Homo sapiens: one gene and its partners. The protein of the gene in region 2 interacts with the protein of the main gene of each other region in a biochemical or structural test. Each region holds a gene or a part of one and is shown on either strand. Other genes may lie near its edges. The genes, in order: E2F3, ATAD2 and E2F2.

Region 1 (7,164 bases), on a different chromosome or scaffold from region 2:
TTCTAATAAGAATCTGGAAATGATGGCTTATGGGTTATCTATGTGTATACGTACAACTGCATAGTTACAGAATATCTTTATCCATGGTTCTAATAGCAGATTAACTCACTTTCTGGGTAAATTAAGGCAAGACTTAAATGCCTCCATTTCGTCTGTAGAGCAGGGATGGTAGCATGATACTTATACAGCCACACGTATGATTACATATGTAATATATTTTGTGAATTTTAGAGCATCTAAATAGCCACTATAAGCACAGTATTGAATTATTAAAGCATTTTGGAAGGAATAATTCTGTTACAGGAGGGCTTTGAAAAGATACTAATTCAGATGGAAGATGAATACATACCTTTTTTTGCACATTTTGGAATTTTGTTGACAGTTTGGTAACCCGTTTTGGCCTCTGGTTTAGAGAAACATATTGTGCACTAGTCTCAGTTCTTGCATACATCACATACATCTGTTTCCTTTACTTTCTTTTCTTTTTAGTTGTTGATATAAGACCCTCAGTAATTACCTGAGTTTTTGATGCTTTTTTGGATGGGTTGTTTTTTTGTTTTTTTTTTTTTTTAATTTTGAACCATTCCATCTTCTCTGTCTTTCTCTATCTTTTTATCCTTTTTCGCCTTTCTTCCCCCACCACCTGGGAGCCATGAGGCAAGGGAGGAAGGTGGTTGCCTTCTTTTGCCCTCTGAATTTGAACCTTCTGAAGAAGTAGACCTCCCCTGGAGGAAAGAATCCTGAAAATAGCAGTGCGCTTTCACTAAATTTCTATGCTGTGAAAAGTGCAGAACTGTATTTATGAAAAAAAAAATATATATATATATATATATATGTGTAAATGTTCTAATTTTAACACTTGGCTAACAAGCAATGTGACCTCCTATGTCAAGAGGAGACATTTACCCAAAGGATCATTTCTCCTTCCCCTCCCTCCCATGAGTAGCCATGAAGAGTCTGTGTTTGGGTTTCTAGGGGCTGCAGTCTGTCTGAGGATGGGGGCATGCTGGCCCAGTGTCAAGGCCTGTCAAAAGAAGTGACCGAGCTCAGTCAGGAAGAGAAGAAATTAGATGAACTGATCCAAAGCTGCACCCTGGACCTCAAACTGTTAACCGAGGATTCAGAGAATCAAAGATATCCTTTGTGCCGCCAGTTCTCTGGGGGTTAGTGCTTCCTAGACTATTTCCAGAGTTGACAATCTGACTTATGCACAAGGTAGATTATTATTCTGATGTCATGCAAATGAGTACCTGTGTGCCTGTGTGTGTATGTGTGTGTGTGTGCACGTGTGTGTGTAAACCCAGTTAGCTTTGCCTAAAAAGTCAGTATTTATGGTAAGATAGTCACCAACTCGATCCTATTATTATCTATTTTGATACCAGGTGGGAACTGTTTTTTAAAGCATTTTTTCATGTGTGGTTGAGACATGGGTATACTCGTAGCGTAAGGCCACACTATTAAAAGATACATAAGGTGTCGGTATTAATATTAATGACAACACTAAGCAGATTCGTCTTTGGCTTCCCAGATTTTTGGTGGGTGTTAGCTGTCACTGTTGGGGTTCTCACATTCTATTTTCTTCTCACCAGATATCGTAGCAATTGAAATTGGTTGAATCTATCTGATTGGGCTATAGTTGAAGGGTTTGAAAGAGTAGAGAAAAATCATACTATAACTCTTAAAGTGCATTCTGCTGATTCCCAATGAAAAAACTGATTTCAAAAGCACCCCAAGACCTGAGAAACCCCTCTCAATTCCTCTGTTCCACTACAAACATTAGTCCTCGCAAATAAAAATACAAAAGGTCAGTTCTTGTTCTCAACTTCCTGACAATCTATTGACGATCTCAGGAAAACTTGCTCTTCATCATCTCACTACAGACAAAGTAAGAGAGAGATTGCCTCATTATGTCAAACAAGACTTGCCAATATTCTCAGTTATTAGAAGACAAAAAACAGTACTGTAAGTTATCCCATCTCTAGTTTTAGTTCCAAACTTCTGATGATTGCACATTTACCATTATTTGACAAAAACTAAAAAGTGTTCTGCCCAGATTCTTCTAGTGTCTCATCTTTAACAGGCTCCCCCTTGGAGAATATGGAGATATTTATTTTCTTCCAATGTTGGCAGTTTTTCAAACCTGCAATTGTTCATTTCCTGTTGACCAAAGAATTAACCTTGTCAGCCGATAATTAGTGAGATGGAAGAGAGGCGTAGTGATTTGGACCCCCAGTGGTTGGCAGAGTGGGTTTACAGGGGAAGAAACCAACAGTTGGGCTGTTTCATTCATTGTTTGGTTGGGAGCCCCATTGTGGAAGAGATGGGTGGTTACATGTGATTGGCAGCCTTCCGGGACATGTGGCTTATGGCATTGTCACCTATATTAGCTCTCTCTGGGGCCTTTGTTGCAGAAAATGAAAGCTTCCTTGCAGGGAACTTCGAACCCAAGGAGTAAATTCAGGAGGGAGCCACAAAGGAAGCACTTTTAAGTTTGTAAGATTAGAAAATACATTTGCACAATTTATTTCAGTTCACCATTCAGTTCCCAAATTGGTACAGCTTGTTCACAAATGTGTTGAAATTTTCCTTCCTGCAGCATGTTGAGTAATCGTAGATGAGTTTTTCTTTTACACTTGATCTTAGCCAAAAGGCCAAGAAGTGATGAGTTTTTATTTTAATAAGTTCTTGTCATACAGCTTTTTGACAGTGAGCTGTAGTGTAAGTACCTGGTTGTCAGTTTTTTCCAGTGTTCTCAGTAAAAAATCAGAACTGCCTGGCCCTCTATAAAGGCATCCGTTGACTTCTTTGATGGGTTATGTAGTGACCTAAAACCCAGAATCCTGCAAGAGCAGCCACTACAAGCTCAACACTGAATTAGCCATCATCTCAACTGTAAAGATTTGAAGGAGATAGTCTGTGATAGATCCCCTACATGTGTATGCAGATTTCGTGTGAATGTGCTTTCTTTCTGGAGTAGTAGTTCCATAGCTGCATTCAGTTTCTAATAAGAAGCTACTACAGCCAGGCACGGTGGCTCATGCCTGTAATCCCAGCTACTCGGGAGGCTGAGGCAGGAGAATCACTTGAACCTGGGAGACAGAGGTGGCAGTGAGCTGAAATCGTGCCACTGCACTCCAGCCTTAGTGACAGAGTGGGAGTCCGTCTCAAAAAAAAAAAAAAAAAGAAGCTACTATCGTAAGGGACATGATTTATTCTAGGGTCTCTAAGCCCCCCCTTTTTTTTATATTAAACATATTAGATCACGGACTCTATTAGCCATTAAATACGTTATACTACCTGCTGAAATGCCTTCATTGGTTTGTTACTTGCTGTTTTATCCTAGGAATTTTTTGTGGGTACATATAAAAAATAATAACGGGCTAAAGACATTGTACATTAATTGAATACTTTTGTCATATCGTAAGTACCATATTCTTTCATGATAGCCTTTTAGGCTTGGCTGTCAGGACATTTAAAAGAATGGTTCAGTGCTTAGAAAAAATGACCAAGGCCGGGCGCCGTGGCTCACACCTGTAATCCCAGCACTTTGGGAGGCCGGAGGCAGGCAGATCACTTGAGTCCAGGAGTTCAAGACCAGCCTGGGCAACAGGGTAAAACCCCATCTCTACTAAAAATAAAAAAAATTAGCCGGGTGTGGTGGTGCACGCCTGTAGTCCCATCTGTTTGGGAGGCTGAGGCACGAGAATCATTTAACCCCAGAGACGGAGGTTGCAGTGAGCTGAGATTGGGCCACTGAACTCCAGCCTGGGTGACAGAGCAAGATTCTGTCTCAAAAAGAAAAAGGAAATAACTACCAAGAGTACTGAGATATTATACTTTTCTCTTTTCCTAAATCAGTGTTTCTCAAATTCATTCAAGTCGCAGAGCACCTGGAAACTGCTTTCTTCCTCATGAACACTGAAATATTGATAGAGTTAATATAGTATCACGCAAAGCATAATTTTTCTAACAGAAATAATGACACTCTTTTCTGTAGGCAGTACATAATCACAACCAGCCCAGGTGCACTTAAGAAAACAAGCTGTCTGCCTGAGCAGTATTCTGAGTTCCTCCACTAATGTATTTGTTACTTATTTATTTACTTGGTGGCTGCTGACACTTGCTTGTAGATAGAAGTAACTGGAGTTTCAAAAAAATTATGGCTAATAGAGATTACATTTTTTTTTCCTGCAAATTGGAATCTGCCATCATTCAGTTTGAGTGACAGAACACTTTATTGGAGTTCATGGAATGCCTGTGCTGCAAAGGACCCTGGCTTCAAGATAAAATTTCTGACCACTTAGTTTTTTATTTTCTTATGATCATTTATTTTAACTGTTCTGTTTCTATGTTTAATATTTTAAATAGCCATAGTCTTTTTAGAAATGGGCGGGATAAAGCTATTCATTTCTTTAGTTGTTTAGAGTGTCAACCAGAAATGAAGATTCATGGGAGACCCTAAACATTTGCACATCCAGAAGGGGAGACATACACATACTTTTTTGAGAAGGAGTCTCGCTCTGTCGCCCAGGCTGGAGTGCAGTGGCGCGATCTCGTCTCACTGCAAGCTCCACCTCCCGGGTTCATGCCATTCTCCGGCCTCAGCCTCCCGAGTAGCTGGGACTACAGGCGCCCGCCACCACGCCTGGCTAACTTTTTGTATTTTTAGTAGAGACGGGGTTTCACCGTGTTAGCCAGGTTGGTCTCCATCTCCTGACCTCATGATCCACCCGCCTCGGCCTCCCAAAGTGCTGGGATTACAGGTGTGAGCCACCGCGCCCGGCCACATATGCATACTTCTAAGTCATAAAATACTTTAAAATATTCCATGCATCTATTTTGTCATTTTCATCATACTTATATCTGAGGTAATTAGATGGAAGATTCCTTGACACTCTTTACGTTAGCTTATGTTACATATCAAGATATTCGAAAAATTAGTGGCCTTAAAGACCAAACTGTTATAGTTGTGAAAGCCCCTCCAGAAACAAGACTTGAAGTGCCTGACTCAATAGAGGTAAGGAGACAGCGTCTTTGTTCATCTGCAAAGATCTTTGTGGAATGCCTGAAATTGAATGACTCATTGACTCATAGTTAAAGTCTGTCCCCCTCCTATGAACTTGATGGTTCTTTCCCATTTATTTTACTTAACCATACATTTGAAAACATTTCAATGGTTTGATGTTCATTGAGTATTCAAACAACCTAACTTTGACCTAGCAGGATGTTCAGTTCAAAGTGGTATATGATGCGCTGTCCCTCTCATACTTTCTCTTTTTCATAATTTGTCATCAACGGTTTTGATCAATTTGAATCACTTTGGAAAGTTTATATTGATTATCCTGTATATGGTCCCCACCACGAACAGATATATAAATGTTTTAAAGTCTCTCCCTAACTTATAACATTTTGAGAGATCACATGGGGCTTTGGGTTAGCTGATAGACTAGAATATTGCAAGAAAGTAGGGGGCATATTTTTGTAATTTTCAGATATACTTGGATAATAGAGGCCTAGACTACAACTATAACATAAAGAGTTGTAGTAAAAAGAAAATGCATAGGAGATAAAAAGAGAATGAAAGTTACACGCTTCCATCTAGGGTAGACTTCTTACCTTAAAAGATAATAATAGCTCTTTGACCTAGATGAAAAAGATTTTTAAATGTTGGTATGCTGCATTCTCTTAATAGATGCAGTTCCTAGCACTTAAGAATACTATTCATCAGTATACAGTTCAACATGAAAAAGTCCTACCATAAAGGAACAATAACATGGAGATACTGAATTTGGAACACTTAAAGGACCTTGTAATAATTTGCAGAAAAAGAATATATCCAAAGAACACAATTCACCTCACCCATTGTGCTATTTTCAGAATGACTCCCCTCTCCCCCAAGCCCCACTAAAATAGTTTTCTTTCTCTAGGGCAGGACTCAGCAAACTTTTTCATTGAAGTGCCAGGTAGATAGTAAATATTTTTGGCTTTGCGAGCCGTACAGCCTGTGTCTAGACTATTCAACTGTGCACCTCTGACATTGTGATACGAAAACAGCCAGAGGCAATAATAAACAATGGGAATGGATGTGACTCTCTTCCAATAAAACTTTATTTACAAAGCCACTTGGTGAACTGGATTTGGCCCTTAGGCTGTGGTTTGCTGACCCCTGCTCTAGAGGATGACAGTCTTTCATAGAGTTGGACTAGTAGGGAAAAAGCAAGTGAAAAACGAACATTGTTCTTACTTTCCATTTTTAGACAAGAATTACTATGGCTTTTATTTCTAAAAGAACTTCTGATTCGAACTTCTCCCACTTCTGTTCATAGAGCCTACAAATACATTTGGCAAGTACCCAAGGGCCCATTGAGGTTTACTTATGTCCAGAAGAGACTGAAACACACAGTCCAATGAAAACAAACAACCAAGACCACAATGGGAATATCCCTAAACCCGCTTCCAAAGGTAAAAACTCCACTTTTGTCTTTTAGAAACTATGTTAAAAATGAGGGTGACTAGAACCATCTGTATTGGAACCACAAGCCTAGGCAAGAAACACAAACTTCTATTGGTATTAGGTAACATGTTTTAAAAGACATTCTGACTGGTTTGCAGAAGAAAATAATGATTTGGGAAAAACGGCTCCTTCACCCACTTATGGAGTCGCTTCAGGCTTTTGCTATTGGCAGAGAATGTTTCCTTACAGCATTTTTGAAAACCAGCTAAAGTGAGGAGCAAAGCTGTGAACTGTCTTGTTGGATCATCAGAGACACTTGGCCACACACCTTTGAATCACACTGCAGAGCTCATCAGAGAGGGAAATGAAAAAGGTTTGAGGAGAAAAGCCTTTGTTGGAGAATTTTTGTCTTATTTTCCCCCCCAATGAGATGGGGAGAGGATATGGGAGGAGAACGCTAGGAAAGTAAGTCTTGCCGGGTGCGGTGGCTCACACCTGTAATCCCAGCACTTTGGGAGGCCGAGGCAGGCAGATCACGAGGTCAGGAGATCGAGACTGTCCTGGCCAACACAGTGAAACCCTGTCTCTACTAAAAATACAAAAATTAGCTGTGCGTGGTGGCACGTGCCTGTAATCCCTGCTACTCGGGAGGCTGAGGCAGGAGAATCACTTGAACCAGGGAGTCGGAGGTTGCAGTGAGCCGAGATCCG
Region 2 (7,449 bases):
TCTGTCACAGTGTCCATGGAGGAGGAGATCAGCGGCGTCTTCAGCGTGATCTTCCAGGTAAGGGCTGAGGTGAGGTCCGCCTCATCAGCTATGAAGTCTATGAATCCTGGGAGAATCAGGAACTCGTTGTAGGTGAGGCTGTCGGCTCTGGCGAAGAGCTGCTGCGTGGTGAGCCCGTCCTCGGGCACGCAGCCGGTGCCCTGGCTCATCAGGTAGTCTGTCAGGCTGCCAGAGACCCGGCGACCCAACATAAACACCCGCTCGGCTGCCAGCCTGCCAGGGCAGGCTATTTTTTTGAGACTGGGTCTCACTATGTTCCCCCGAATGGTTTGGAACTGCTGGGCTCAAGCGATCCTCCCACCTCAGCCTCCCAAGTAGCTGGTACTACAGGCCCGCACCACCACACCTGGCTTTGTGTAGTGTGTTTAATAAGCTCCCTGGGGAATTCTATCTTTGAAGTTCTGGAAGCATTTTCAACTATTTTGGACTTCCTACCTCAGGGCCTTTGCACTTGTTCTTCCCATTCTCTGGAAAACCCTGCCAATTTTTTGATCGGCTGATTCCTTCTCATATTTTACGTGTCATCTAAAATGTCGCCTCCTCAGACTGATCTTTCTTTTTTATTTATTTATTTTTGAGCTGGAGTCCCACTCTGTCGCCAAGGCTGGAGTGCAGTGGCATGATCTTGGCTCACTGCAACCTCTGCCTCACGGGTTCAAGCAGTTCTCCTGCCTCAGCCTCCCAAGTAGCTGGGATTACAAGTGTGTGCCACCATGCCTGGCTAATTTTTGTATTTCTAGTAGAGACAAGGTTTTGCCATGTTGGCCAGGCTAGTCTCGAACTCCTGACCTCAAGCAATCTGCCTGCCTCGCCCTCCCAAAGTGCTGGGATTACAGGTGTGACACATGCCTGGCCTCAGACCTTTCTTTCTTTCCTTCTTTTTTTGAGATGGAGTTTCGCTCTTGTTGCCCAAGCTGGAGTGCAATGGCGTAATCTCGGCTCACCGCAACCTCTGCCTCCCAGGTTCAAGAAATTCTTCTGCCTCAGCCTCCTGAGTAGCTGGGATTACAGGTGCCCGCCACCATGCCCAGCTAATTTTGTATTTTTGGTAGAGATGGGGTTTCTCCATGTTGGTCAGGCTGCTCTAGAACTCCCGACCTCAGGTGATACCCACCTCGGCCTCCCAAAGTGCTGGGATTACAGGTGTGAGCCGCCCCGCCTGGCCTCAGATTGACCTTTCAAGTCCACTGTATGTTTCTCTCCTCTTCCTTCAACCACTCTGTATCACATGACCCTGTTTCATTTTCTTTATACCACTTGCTATAATGAAGTTACCTTGTTTATTTACTTCCTTGTTTATCCACTGAGTACCTCTTAGAATGTAAGCTCCATGAACCTAGGGTTCCTGGTTCACTGCTTTACTCCCTGCACCTCTAACTATGCTTAGAATAAGATGGGGGCTCAATTAAAATTTCCTGAATAAACAAATCAAATGAGATGGTATATACAGTATATAGTCGTGTGGTTTTTTTTTTTTTTGAGACGGAGTCTTGCTGTGTCGCCAGGTTGGAGTGCAGTGGTGCCATCTCGGCTCACTGCAACCTCTGCCTCCCAGGTTCAAGCAATCCCCCTGCCTCAGCCTCCTGAGTAGCTGGGGCTACAGGCGTGCACCACCACGCCCAGCTAATTTTTTGTATTTTCAGTAGAGACGGGGTTTCACCATGTTGACCAAGATGGTCTCAATCTCTTGACCTCGTGATCTGCCCACCTCGGCCTCCCAAAGTGGGGGGATTACAGGCGTGAGCCACCGTGCCCAGCCATAAATAGTATTTTAAAACCAAGTAATAGTAAACTCTGCTACTTTTTAAATTTTTTAAACTGTACTACTTTAAATATTGTTCCTTTCTTTTTCACCTATGTTGGTTAAACAATTATTTTAAAGTTTTTTTCTATTGTAAAAGTGAAGCATATTCATGCAAGAAAAATCAGAAAAATTGTTTGGGCATGGTGGCTCACACCTGTAATCCCAGGCTTTGGGAGGCTGTGGTGGGAGGATTGCTTGAGGCCAGGAGTTTGAGACCAGCCTGGGCAACAGAGTGAGACCCCGTCTCTAAAAACAAATTAGCCAGGTGTGATGGCACACACCTGTGGTCCCAGCTACTAGGGAGGCTGAGGTGGAAGGATTGCTTGAGCCCTGGAGGTCAAAGCTGCAGTGAACCGTGGCTGCGCCACTGCACTCCAGCCTGGGTGACAGAACAATAATCTGTCTTCCTGGGGACGGTAGCTCACGCCTGTAATCCTAGAACTTTGGGAGGCCAAGGCAGGTGGATCACCTGAGGTCAGTAGTTCGAGACCAGCCTGGCCAGCATGGTAAGACCCCATCTCTACTAAAAATACAAAAATTAGCTGGGCATGGTGGTGCACGCCTGTAATACCAGCTACTCTGGAGGCTTAGGCAGGACAATCGCTTGAACCCGGGAGGCAGAGGTTGCAGTTAGCTGAGATCATGCCACTGCACTCCAGCCTGGGCAACAGAGCAAGATTCTGTCTCAAAAAAAAAAAAAAAAAAAAAAGAACAAGAACCTCTCTCAAAAAAAAAGCAGGACTCCCAGTTAAATGCGAAGTTCAGATAAACAACAAATACTTTTTATATGTCCCCAGACATTGCATTCTTCATTCAGCAGCCACGCAGATTATTTTTAAAGTCGGAATAAGTCAAACCTCTGTTCAAAACCCTGAGATGTCTTTTCATCTCAGGGTTTGGATGGGAATTTGGGGGCTATAATAAAAGCCCTCAAAAGTTTCAAACTAAGACCCAGAGTCCCGTAGGACCTGCTCCCAGTGGCTCTGTTCTCATTGGCCTCGCCACTCTCCCCTTCCTGCTTCCCGCCTCTCTCTTCTTCCAGAACCATCTAACCTTTAGGCCTTTGTCAGACTTCTCAGCCAGACCTTCCCTAATCACCCTATTTTAAATTGCACTCTTCCCTCCCCCTTCCCTACTTTATATTTCTCTGTAATGCTTGCCACTTTAAAACTTTTACATTTAGTTTATTGTCTTTCACCTTCCACTAGAGTTTAAGTTCCATTAGGGCATTTTTGTTCTTTTTATTCACTGCTGCATCCCCAGTGCTTAGAATAATGCCTGGTACATAATAGAGGCTCAATATGTATTTAACAAATATTAAATTAATGAACTGTAGTTATCCAAATCAATAAATAGCTTTCGTTTATTTCGCTAAGAGCCCTCGGACATTCTGATCATTCAGCGTGTTACCTATTTCAAAGTAGTCAAGTAACTGCCATCTTAGAGAAGCCATCTTCTTGTATTCTGTGATAATAGCGAACGCTTATTGAGCACTTATTATGTGCAAGCACGGCTCCAAGGTATCATAATAGTACTTTAGGGCCTTAGGTATTACAATCGGAGTTACTTTCCGATTATATGTACATTCCGAGATACGTATAAAAAGTATTTGTTCTTTATCTGAACTTCACATTTAACTGGGAGTCCTGCTCTTTTTTTTGAAACAGGTTCTTTTTTTTTTTTTTTTTTTTTTTTGAGACAGAGTCTTGCTCTGTTGCCCAGGCTGGAGTGCAGTGGCACGATCTTGGCTCACTGCAACCTGTGCCTCCCGGCTTCAAGCGATTCTCCTGCCTCAGCGTGTGAGGAAATTAGAATGCAGGGAGGTGAATAATTTGTTCGAGATCTTCTATGTGGGATGATCAATGGCAAAGATGGGTACAGAACCCGCGTCCTTAACTAAACGATGGCACTCTGCTGGCTCGCTTTTAGCTCCTTGTGTTTTCTTTCTTTTTGGTGGTTAACTTGTTTTCGTCAAGCCCTCAATTATTTAAAAAAAAAAAAAGTTCTTAAGGCTCAAAGTCAAAACCTGTCAAAGGCCAAGTGCTTTATTTCCCTCCAGTCAAGGACTGGGCATTTTGCATTTGAATCCTGGATGGCGGGAAGCAGCAAGCAGGTGTCAACAGGGGTGGGGAGGAGACGCCGGACCCCACCAGCCAATCAGAGCGCGCAGAGGCCTCCCTTCCCCCGCCGCCGTCCCGCGCCAAAATTCCAAACGGGCTACGCACCGCTCCCACCGTCTCCTTCCGCCGAGCTCAGCGAGCCGGAACTATGTGAAGAAAAAGAAGTCAGCGTTTTCCCCAGGACTCTCCGCTCAGGTCCTCTATACTGTCGGCCTGTGTTCCTCTCCACGTTGGCCCGGCCTCCTTCGCTCTACAAATGGGAGGAGAGTTTCGAGCCTGCTGTTCTACGGTGGTGGCGTGGGCGGGACAGACGGCGGAGGGATTCTGGGCGCGCGCGCTGCGGCCGCTGGCGCGGAGCTTGTGGCGCCAGAATTCGGAGCGCGGAAGAGCCAGAGCTGCGAGCGCCTGGAGCTGGATCTCTCTCCGGTCGCGCACGCCGAGGCCAGTAGGGAGAGAAGATGGTGGTTCTCCGCAGCAGCTTGGAGCTGCACAACCACTCCGCGGCCTCGGCCACGGGCTCCTTGGACCTGTCCAGTGACTTCCTCAGTCTGGAGCACATCGGCCGGAGGCGGCTCCGCTCGGCCGGCGCGGCGCAGAAGAAACCCGCGGCGACCACAGCCAAAGCGGGCGTGAGTACGGGCCTGAGGCGGGCTCCCAGGGCGGTTCCCGGGGGGACTGCCGGCAGCCCGGCGCTCGGAGGGGCCTGGGGGTGGGCGGCGCCGGTCAGGGTGACAGTTGTCGGGGGAGAAGTGTGGTCGAGGACGAGTAAAATGGAAGCTCTCGGGATCGGAGGTGCGGGTCGGATCGCTGAGCTGAGGCTGGCCGGGAGAGGACTAAGCATTTGGTCACCACCTACTTTTACGCAAGAGGAAATCGAAGCCCGCCACAGCGGAGTGCGGTCTGGGGCCAAGCCGCGGCTGTTCGGCCGCCCGCACGACCCCCCACTCCCTGGCCGATCGATCGCCCAGGCTCCTGCCCTAGGTTCGCATCAACCTGGAGGCAACACGCATCCCCTGACTGCTTTCTGTCTGCGCCATAAACGTTGGGGGGGAGGGGGCACAGGGACAGACAGGTTGTAATTCAGGTTCTCTGACCTCCATTAACGATCCAGAGGAGTTCCGTAATAACAGCGCAGTGAATAATACCAGGTTGCATAATGTGGAGGGATGAAGACCAACATTTCATGTACGCCCCCCGCTTCCAAGCCTCGTCATAACCCTTTGAGAATGCGTAGTTGTGCTATCTCTTTGACAGATGAAGAAACGGATTCAAAAAGGTAAACAGTAAGGGGTAGATCTAAAATTGGAACTCAGATTGCCTGCCTCCTAAATCGTTCCCTTTCTATGCCGTCATGCTGCAGTTACAAGCAGTGTCTATAGGGGAAGTTTGGAAGGAAGGAGGGTCCTCTTGAAAGAAGTGCTGCTTCTAGGTCTGAAGTGCAGTGACGGTTTTTGCAGGGCAGAGTTAAAGCTGAGCAGTTACTCCCCTCCCATCCACCTCCCCACCCCAGCTGCTGAAAGAGGCCTAGGTGGAGGGGTTTCAGCATTCACAGAAGGTTGAAGAAGTCGGGGAAGCTCGCTAGTAAATTTAGTTAAGGCAGCAAGTAATATATAGCTGGACTGAAGGTGTTGGAGTGAGTGAGGGTAGGCATGGAGTAGGAAAAATAGGACCTGAGAGAAGGTTGGGAACTTGGGAATGAGAATGAGAGGCTCAGGGGAAATGTGTGGTGGAAGTGACAATGTAATCCTCTTCAGTTCAGCAGACGATTTCAGGGTCTTGTATTAAGTCTTCTATTAAGATCTTGTATTTAGATAACTATATAAAATTAGTTGCCAGTATCTTTTGTGGGCATCCCATTCTGGTTGCTACTCTACTGAGGGGAATGGGTTAAAAACTACACTCCCTTCAGTCTCTGAAATTGTGATTCTGAATTGAAAAGACAAGTAATTTCCTGACTTTAAAGATTTGTTTCTCAGTCATCTGCCAGGAATTGGCAGAGACCTGGAGAGGCCAAACACTTCTGCACTGGAATTGGTTACTTGACTTAACCTGTGTTCAGAAAATGTGTTTCAATACTGATTGATTATTTATGTCCAGGGTAACACTAGATCCTGTGAACATAATGATACGTACTGATATATTGAATACTGGTTAAATACATAGGCTCTTTTTTTTTTCTTCGAGACAGAGTCTCACTCTCTCATCCAGGCTGGAGTGCACTGGTGTGATCTCGGCTCACCGCAACCTCAACCTCCACCTCCCGGGTTCAAGCAGTTCTCCTGCCTCAGCCTCCCAAGTAGCTGGGATTACAGACATACACCACCACGCTGGGCTAATTTTTGTATTTTTAGTAGAGACAGGGTTTCTGTATGTTGGCCAGGCTGGTCTCGAACTCCGACCTCAGGTGATCCACTTGCCTCAGCCTCCCAAAATGCTGGGATTACAGAATTGAGCCACCCTGCTTGGCCAAATACATAGACTCTTAAGAAAACTGTTAATTATGAATTTCAGTTTCAGCTTCTCAGGTTTACCAATAATCATCAGGTTTCTACACTTGTTAAATGGGATGATACCCACCACATTGGTAGTGAGGATTAAATGTGATCATGTATGTAAGGAGATTAATTGAACAGTTAGCATATGGTTAGGATTCAGTCATTGTCAGCTATTAAGACCATCGTCAGTTTTAGTTAATGGCCACTCCGTTTTTTTTTTTCAGTTCCTCAGGAAAAAAAACCTTAGGTTGTTGTTGACTCCTCACATCCAGTGCATTAGCAAATTCTGTTGGCTCCACTTTCAAAATATATTCCAAGTCTGACCACTTTATATGTCCTCCAGTGTTGCCATGCTGGTTCAAGCCATAATCTCTTTCCTGGATTATTTATTTATTTATTATTTTGAGACAGAATCTTGCTCTGTCACCCAGGCTGGAGTGCAGTGACGTGATCTCGGCTTGCTGCAGTTTCCGCCTCCCGGGTTCAAGTGACTCTCCTGCCTCAGCCTTCCAAGTAGCTGGGATTACAGGCATGCGCCACCACGCCTACCTAATTTTTGTGTTTTTGGTGGAGACGGTGTTTCACTGTTTTGGCCAGTCTGATCTCAAACTCCCGGTCTCAGGTGATCGGCCCACCTCAGCCTCCCGAAGTGCTGGGATTACAGGCATGAACCACCGCGCCTGACCATCTTTCCTGGATTATAATAGATTCTTGATTGGCCTCCTTCCCGTTTTCCACTGTTTGATATATATATTATGCCCCACCTTCCCTCAACAGTCAGTTCTCTTTATTTATGCATTTATTTATTTTTGAGACAGAGTCTTGCTCTGTCACCCAGGTTAGAGTGCAGTGGCACCAACGTGGCTCACTGCAGCCTCAACCTCCCAGGATCAAGTGATTCTCCACCTCAGCCTTCTAAGTAGCTGGAACTACAGGGGCTCGCCACCACACCCAGCTCATTTTTAAGTTT
Region 3 (7,164 bases), on a different chromosome or scaffold from region 2:
TGCCTGTCTCTCAGGGAGCTACCAGGGATTGGAACCAGAGGTTTGGGGGTTGGGCTTGGGAGAAAAAACAAGTCAAGACCTGAACCCCATTTCTGAGGGGCTCTCGACTCTGTTCATCCCTATGCCCCAGCCTCCTCCAACTGGAGTAGCCTCAGTCCTGACTCCCTCCCCTGCCTGGTTTCTCTTAGGATTTATGCCAAGGGCTATAGGTCAGCTCTTTAAACCCTGTAGAAATGGAGAGAGGAGGCTGGAGTACTCCTATCTCAGATCTGGAAGGAGTCCGGGATCCCCCTACTTAGCTCCCAGGGGACTGCCCTAAGCTAGAAGAAGTGGATATTGGGATCTCTGACTCAAGAGGAAGAATCTGAGGTTCCCTTTGGCCTTTACACCTCCCAGATGTCATTCTCCACTCTGCCCCGCATCACGTTCTCCGATTACTTCAGCAGGTACACGGCGCTCTTCCTCACCATACATTGGCTCTACCCCCAGCAATAAGCCTATTGGATGTTGCTCTTGGTCCGCCTCAGCCCTTGTGCCCATTGGATGTTGCTCTCAGCCCCGCCCCTGCCACTCACACCCACTGGCTATTGCCTCTGGCTCCGCCCACAGCACAAGTACCCATTGGAGGGTACCACTGGCCGCCCAGGCACTCACACCCACTGGATGTTGTTCTTGGCCTTCTTGCGGATGAGCTGGATGCCTTCCAGCACGTTGGTGATGTCATAGATGCGCCGCTTCTGCACGTCCAGCACCTCAGCGGCCCAGTTCAGGTCCAGGACCCCATCCTCTGACTCGCTCAGGAGGTAAATGAACTTCTTGGTGAGCAGCCCCAGCGAAGTGTCATACCGAGTCTTCTCCCCGGGGGATTTGGGGGCTGAAGAAGAAAGGGACCCAGTCACAGCTCAGGGAGGGGAGGGCCCGCCCAGGACCCTCGTCCATTGACCTAGGCTCATTAAGTACCACCTTTCACCACCCACTTTCCAGTTTACAAAGCAGTGTGAGCCAGGGCATCCATCACCACCACTGTCCAGACAGGGAACCTGATACCTAAGAGGGAAGGTGACTTGCTTAAGGTCTCACGGCCAATGGGCAGTGTTGGAAGCCTAGTGTCCTGACTCCTGGTTAAATGCACATTTCCACCACAGCTTAGGGCTGCCAGACCACCACCCACAACTACTGTCACTGTTCTAAGTGCTTTCCATGTACGAACACATTTAAGCCCTACAACACCCTGTAAGGGTTGCTGTACAATCATCCCCATTTTATAGATGAGAATACTGAGGCACAGTTTAAGTAATTTGCTCAGCTCACTCAGCTAGAAAGTGGCAAAGCTGGAATTCAAATCCAGGCAGTCTGACTCCAGAGTTTTCCTTAACCATTACCCTATCCTGCCACTTAAATGTCCGGAGTTTGGAATTAGAATAGGGTAGAAATGATAAGCCTGGATTTAAGAGCATTTTTATAGACACACACTTGCTTTTTCTTCCCATGTGAATCACAATGATTATCTGAGAAAAATCGGTCCTGTAACATCAAGTCGGGGAGGTTCATGAGAAAGGTCCCTTTCTCAATGAGGTTGATGTTGCAAGACCACATCTCAGCTGCAGCATCTTAAACCACGAGGGGACTTTTGTAATCGAGTGACTTCCAAGTCATATAGCAAGTTAGTGGCCAATCCAGTAATTCTGGAACCTGAATTTTAGAGTCTTAGGTTCCTCTGGAGGAGGACCAGTTATCATGAGCCTCAGGATCCTTCAAGACAGTGCTCTGGGCAGCCTTGACCAATCAAATGTAGAGGAAACTTTCTTGCCATTCCTGATCTAGCTGTGTCTTCTTTTACACAAGACAACTAAGGTTCACAACAACTAAGGTTCACAGGAGTGACCTGTCAGGTCGGAGCAGAATCCTACCTGGACCCCCAAAACTAGTGTTCCTCCCAAACACAGTTGCTTTAACTCCTGCTCTAACCAGGATTTTTTTTTTTTTTTGGAGATGGAGTCTCACTCTCTCTCCCAGGCTGGAGTGGAGTGCAGTGGTGCGATCTTGGCTCACTGCAACCTGCCTCCCAGGTTCAAGTGATTCTCCTGCCTTGGCCTCCTGAGTAGCTGGGATTACAGGCATGCGCCACCACACCCGGCTAATTTTTGTATTTTTAGTATAGACGGGGTTTCACCACGTTGGCCAGGCTGGTCTGGAACTCCTGACCTCAGGTTATCTGCCCACCTTGGCCTCCCAAAGTGCTGGGATTATAGGTGTGAGCCACCACGCTCAGCCTATCCAGGATATTGACTGAAAATATCAAGAGGCAGCAACCCCCTCCAACTTAGCTTTAGGAAGGCACCACCTGGGCAGCCTCTGGATCTTAAAAACCTTTGGGGTGGCAGAGACTGGATTAATCTGTGCTTCCCTTCCCTTTGAATCACTTATTCAGCTCCTTGTCTGCATGTGGGAGAAAGACCCTGGTTAGCCCCTGCTCTTCTGATTTAGAAAAATTTACCTTGACCTAAACATTAAAACGTTTTAAAAATAATAAATTCCCAAATAAAACACTGGTCATTGAGTTTAGATCATGAGAGCAGTACATGGTATGGTAGAAGTAGTGCGAGACTGGCCAGGCATGGTGGCTCACGCCTGTAATCCCACCACTTTGGGAGGCCGAGGCGGGTGGATCATTTGAGGTCAGGAGTTTAAGACCAGCCTGGCCAACATGGTGAAACTGTGTCTCTACTAAAAATACAAAAATTAGGCAGGGATGGTGGCATGTACCTGTAGTCCCAGCTACCTGGGAGGCTGAGGTGAGAGAGTTGCTTGAACCCCAGAGGTGGAGGTTGCAGGGAGCCAAGATGGCACCACTGCAATCCACATTTGGTGACAGAGCGAGACCTGTCTCACAACAACAACAACAACAACAACAACAACAACAAAAAAAAACACAGAAGTAATGCAAGATTTACATGTCCAGGCTCTAGTCCTGACTCCACTCTGAGACTATGGGCAAGTCACTCAAGCTCTCTGAGTCTCAAGTTGCCTGATTAGTAAAGACAGACAAGCCTACCTACCTGGCAGGATCAAATAATAAAATACGCAGGAAGCTTTTGTAAACTGGAAAGTGATCCAAATATGACTACCAGTGATTGGGCAGGGCACTGCCCTCTGCCCCTGCCCCACCCCACCCCAGAGGCCCCATCAGCACTGCTTACTTTTGGGGCTGGGGAGGCCATCCACTCTGATGCACTTCCCCTTGGGGGTTGGGAACTCAGGGACGACGGGCCTCCCAATCCCCTCCAGATCCAGCTTCCTTTTGGCCTTGGAGAAAAGGGGGAGAGAGAGGCAGAGTTTGAGAATCATTCCTCCTTTAGCCTTTCCCTGATGTGGGGCCAAAGCAATGAAGCCACTTAGCAGCCACCTCTGTGCCTCAGTTTACCGCCAGTCCTGGTGAAGCACTGCTGTACTTGATAGGAAAACATCAGTGACCTGAGAAGTGAGCTTTCAGGGGAAATCTTGTTTTCTGAAGGGCAAATAAAACTCCCATCCTCTGAGGCCCAGGCACTTGAGACCCTACCAAAGCCAGTCTGGCCAAGGGCTCAGAGCTCCTTAACCACGGGCCCTAAGCCGGCTCCTATACCTGCTCCTCACCCCACCACACCCAGAGGATGATACCAGGAGGAAGCAGTGGGTGGGGCCTAAACCACATCAGGGTGGGGAAAGGGCCCCCCTACAGAAGCAGCTGGCCCAGCTAGACTGAGTGCCCATCACAGTCCCACAGCTGGTCCTTATCAGGGCGGGGCTGGGCATCCGCCCAGACCCAGGGGACTTCCTGGCTCAGTGCCACAACCCAGGGAGGTGCCCACAGTGGGAAGCAGTGCAAACATCCCCACCCCCATGTTTGGGCTCCAGCTTGAGGGCCCCAGGGCCTCCTGAATAGACTGCATTTGCCATTCTTTCTTTGCCGAGAGGGGCAGACAATGAATCCTTCCCGTGTCTTAAGGACAAGCAGCTGAGGCCACCCCCCCCCTCCAGCTCCCCCTTTCTGTTCCCGCCAAGCTTGGGAAACACCTGCTGGGGAAATCAAACCACAGACCCATCTGCTCCTCTCCACCCTGTTGCCACCCGGGCCCCAATTAGGCCCAGAGCTGCACTGGCCCGGAAAGGGCCTCTCTCCTGGTTAGGGCTGGGCAGGGGCAGGGCAGGGGCAGAGCTGGGGCACTGGGACACTGGGACATAGGTCAGAGACCCATGCTTGAATCTCCAGCTCCTTCGCAGGCTCACGGTACAAGTTGGGGGAAATGTTACACATCTAAGGAGCCTCAGTTTCTTCCTCTGTAAATGGGGTAAAAATGCCTACCTCAAGGGGCTATTGTAAGGATTCAAGGAAGGCACTACCTGGGCAGCCTCTGCATCTTAAAAACCCTGGAACAGGCTGAATTAATCCCCGCGTGGCTTCCCTTTGAAGCACTTATTTAGCTCCCTGTCTGCATGTGGGAGAAAGACCCTGGTTAGCTCCTGCTCCTTTAACTTCTGTAAAGTTCTCAGCCTGTGTCTCAGCACACAGTAGGTGTTCAGGAAACACAGAGTCCCTTCCCTAAAATCTAATCTCGACCTCTTCCTTCATACATCCTTCTGGGGGTCATCGAGCCCATTTCTTTCCTCTTTCCAACTCTGGATCCCCCAGACACCCCTACCCTGGCTTGGACAGAGAGGCCTATTTTAACATTTAGTGGTGAGGTCATGCTCAGCAGGGCTGAGACTTCTAACTGCTGCTGAGCACAGCTGGGCTGACAGGTGTTGGAGGTGGTGACAGCTCTTCCTGCTGTCAGTTCCCCTTCCCCCACTCCTGCCCCCTCCAGGAAGTCTTCCTGGGCTGATGTGAGGAGCCCTGCTCCTTGGTTTGAGGAGCCTGGATATAACACTCTTGCTTTCCACCACTACCGAGACCTGGAAACCATCCAAACACTTTACTGCTCATTCTTGAATGAGTCTCTTGAATATTCCTTTTCTACCTTCCTAACTGGTGAAATCCTATATTCTAGAGATTTAGCCCCATGCTGTCACTAGAGAAAGGGCCAGTCACTGGCTGAGACCTTCCACATGCCCTGAACCACGCCCCAACATTCATCACTTCACTGAATCTTCCCATACCACTAATCCCCATTGTACAGCTGAAGTAATTGAGGCTTGGGGAGCTCCGAGGCCTCCATCAATCCTGACCAAGGCTGCACATCCTAGTATTCTTCATATATCCCCCAGCAGGAGCACCAAGGGCAGGGAGAGGAAGGGAAGCTCAGGTGGAGTTCTACCTGAGGCAGAGGTGGGGCAGCCCAGAGCCTCCCCAGCCACACCTGTCTCCCCCGCCAGAACAAACCAGAAAGAATCCCAGGAAGACCTTGAACAGAATATCTATGCTGAGCCTGTTACATGCTCGTAACAGTCCTACCACATCAGTATTGGCACTGGCTCTCGGAAGCCAAAAAATGGAGACTTACAGAGAGTAAGCACATGCCCAAGGTCACACAAAGGCCGGAGCCAGGGTTTGAACCCAGGCCTGTCTGACTGCAAAGCCATGTACCAGGCTGCCTCAGCTGCATCCCACACACGCTGCCCCAGGATTTGCTAGAATTTGGGCCAAGGCCTGGGCTACGCCCACCTGCCCCCATCACTGCATGTACTTGCACACACACACACACACACACACACACACAGCCTTCTCTCTTTTCTCACTCTCCTTCACCCTTATTCTGCACTCCCAGGGTCCCAATGCGGCAAGTGTCCCCCTAAGGATACCTCCCTGACACCTTTGGACAGTGCCCAGAGGAAAGTCAGCCTATGGCTTGGGCTGAACCTGCAGAACACAGGTGGCAGAGGACAAGCCCAGGAGGATCAGCATCAAGGTGAGGCTGAGCACAGGTCTTGGAGTCAGACTGGCCTGGCTTTGCATCTAGGCCTTCCCCTTCTTAGCTGGGAAATCAGTTGACGTCAAGTCACCTATAAAATGGGCATCATTGTCTCCACCTATGCTGAGGATTCAGTGAGATAGTGCAGCAAAGCGCTTTGCCCATAGGGAGTGCCCCCACCAGGGAGCTGCTAGCACTGATGTATGGGGAGCACCAGTGGGAAAAGGGGAAAGTTCAAGGGTGAGCTGAAAAGAGACTGCGATGAGGGGAGGAGAGCAAAGGCTATGGCCACAGCCAGAGGCCAGCTTAGCCCTATCCTGGACGCTCTTAGGCAGCCCCTTTGGCTGGATCTTCAAGGCCTGGTCAGGACGCAAGCCCACCCTGCCAACCCCTATGGAGAAGAGTACAGCTCCTTCCTCAGGCAGCTGCAGAAGTGCAGAGGGTCAGAGATCACCAGGCACAACCCCCTTACGGGCACCACGGTGAGGAAACTGGGACTTGGGGAAGAGGAATTGACTTGCCCAAGGTCACGCAGAGTGGAGCCTGGTCTCTCCTAAGCCCTAAGTCAGATGGTGGGGGTAGGAGCAAATGTAAGGGGTCGAACCTTGCTTTCAGATCCCAGCTCTGCCACTTCGTAGCTGAACAGCCTGGGATTCACTGTCTTGCCTCTCTGAGCCTACACCTCCTCACCTGACCTGCCTTGTAGAGTTGTGTGTTAAAATGTTTATTTTCTTTCATGCCTCACAAGAGGAAATCTGGAAAATGTAGACAAATTGAAAGAAAAGGAGGACCGGGCGTGGTGGCTCACGCTTGTAATCCCAGCACTTTGGGAGGCCAAGGCGGGTGGATCACCTGAGGTCAGGAGTTCGAAGCTAGCCTGGCCAACATGGTGAAACCCCATCTCTACTAAAAATACAAAAAGTAATCCCAGCTACTTGGGAGGCTGAGACAGGAGAATCATTTGAACCTGGGAGGTGGAGTTTGCAGTGAGCAGAGATGGCGCTATTGCAAGCCAGCCTGGGCAGAGCTTCCTGCAGGCGTGAAAGAGAATGATGCCATGCGCCTGGCCAGAGGAGGCATGCGATAAAGGGGCATTCCCTGAGCCTTCCTCAGAGGACTTGGAAAGAGCTCTGGACAGGGAGCCAGGAGATCTGGGTTGTGGCCTTCATTCTGCCATTGAACTTGGTTGCCATCCTTGGACAGTGCCTGAGGTCCCTTTAAACAGAAGCTCCACAACAAATCCTGCTCACCCTGCACTTTGCAGCCCGGCCAC

Evidence for each region.
Region 1: the proteins of ATAD2 (region 2) and E2F3 form a complex in vitro, tested with the Homo sapiens proteins (one study listed by BioGRID).
Region 3: the proteins of ATAD2 (region 2) and E2F2 form a complex in vitro, tested with the Homo sapiens proteins (one study listed by BioGRID).

Annotation. Positions count from the first base shown.
Region 1 is NC_000006.12:20,481,787-20,488,950, forward strand, and holds part of E2F3 (transcription factor E2F3), read left to right. Parts: intron 1-975; coding exon 976-1,134; coding exon of another isoform or gene 1,135-1,163; intron 1,164-4,902; coding exon 4,903-5,017; intron 5,018-6,326; coding exon 6,327-6,462; intron 6,463-7,164.
Region 2 is NC_000008.11:123,393,351-123,400,799, reverse strand, and holds the start of ATAD2 (ATPase family AAA domain-containing protein 2), read left to right. Parts: upstream 1-4,352; 5' UTR 4,353-4,442; coding exon 4,443-4,613; intron 4,614-7,449. UniProt on the Homo sapiens protein: May be a transcriptional coactivator of the nuclear receptor ESR1 required to induce the expression of a subset of estradiol target genes, such as CCND1, MYC and E2F1.
Region 3 is NC_000001.11:23,521,183-23,528,346, forward strand, and holds part of E2F2 (transcription factor E2F2), read right to left. Parts: exon of another isoform or gene 6,223-7,164; intron 5,889-6,222; exon of another isoform or gene 5,748-5,888; intron 3,597-5,747; exon of another isoform or gene 3,407-3,596; intron 3,307-3,406; coding exon 3,201-3,306; intron 875-3,200; coding exon 655-874; exon of another isoform or gene 404-654; coding exon of another isoform or gene 390-403; intron 1-389. UniProt on the Homo sapiens protein: Transcription activator that binds DNA cooperatively with DP proteins through the E2 recognition site, 5'-TTTC[CG]CGC-3' found in the promoter region of a number of genes whose products are involved in cell cycle regulation or in DNA replication.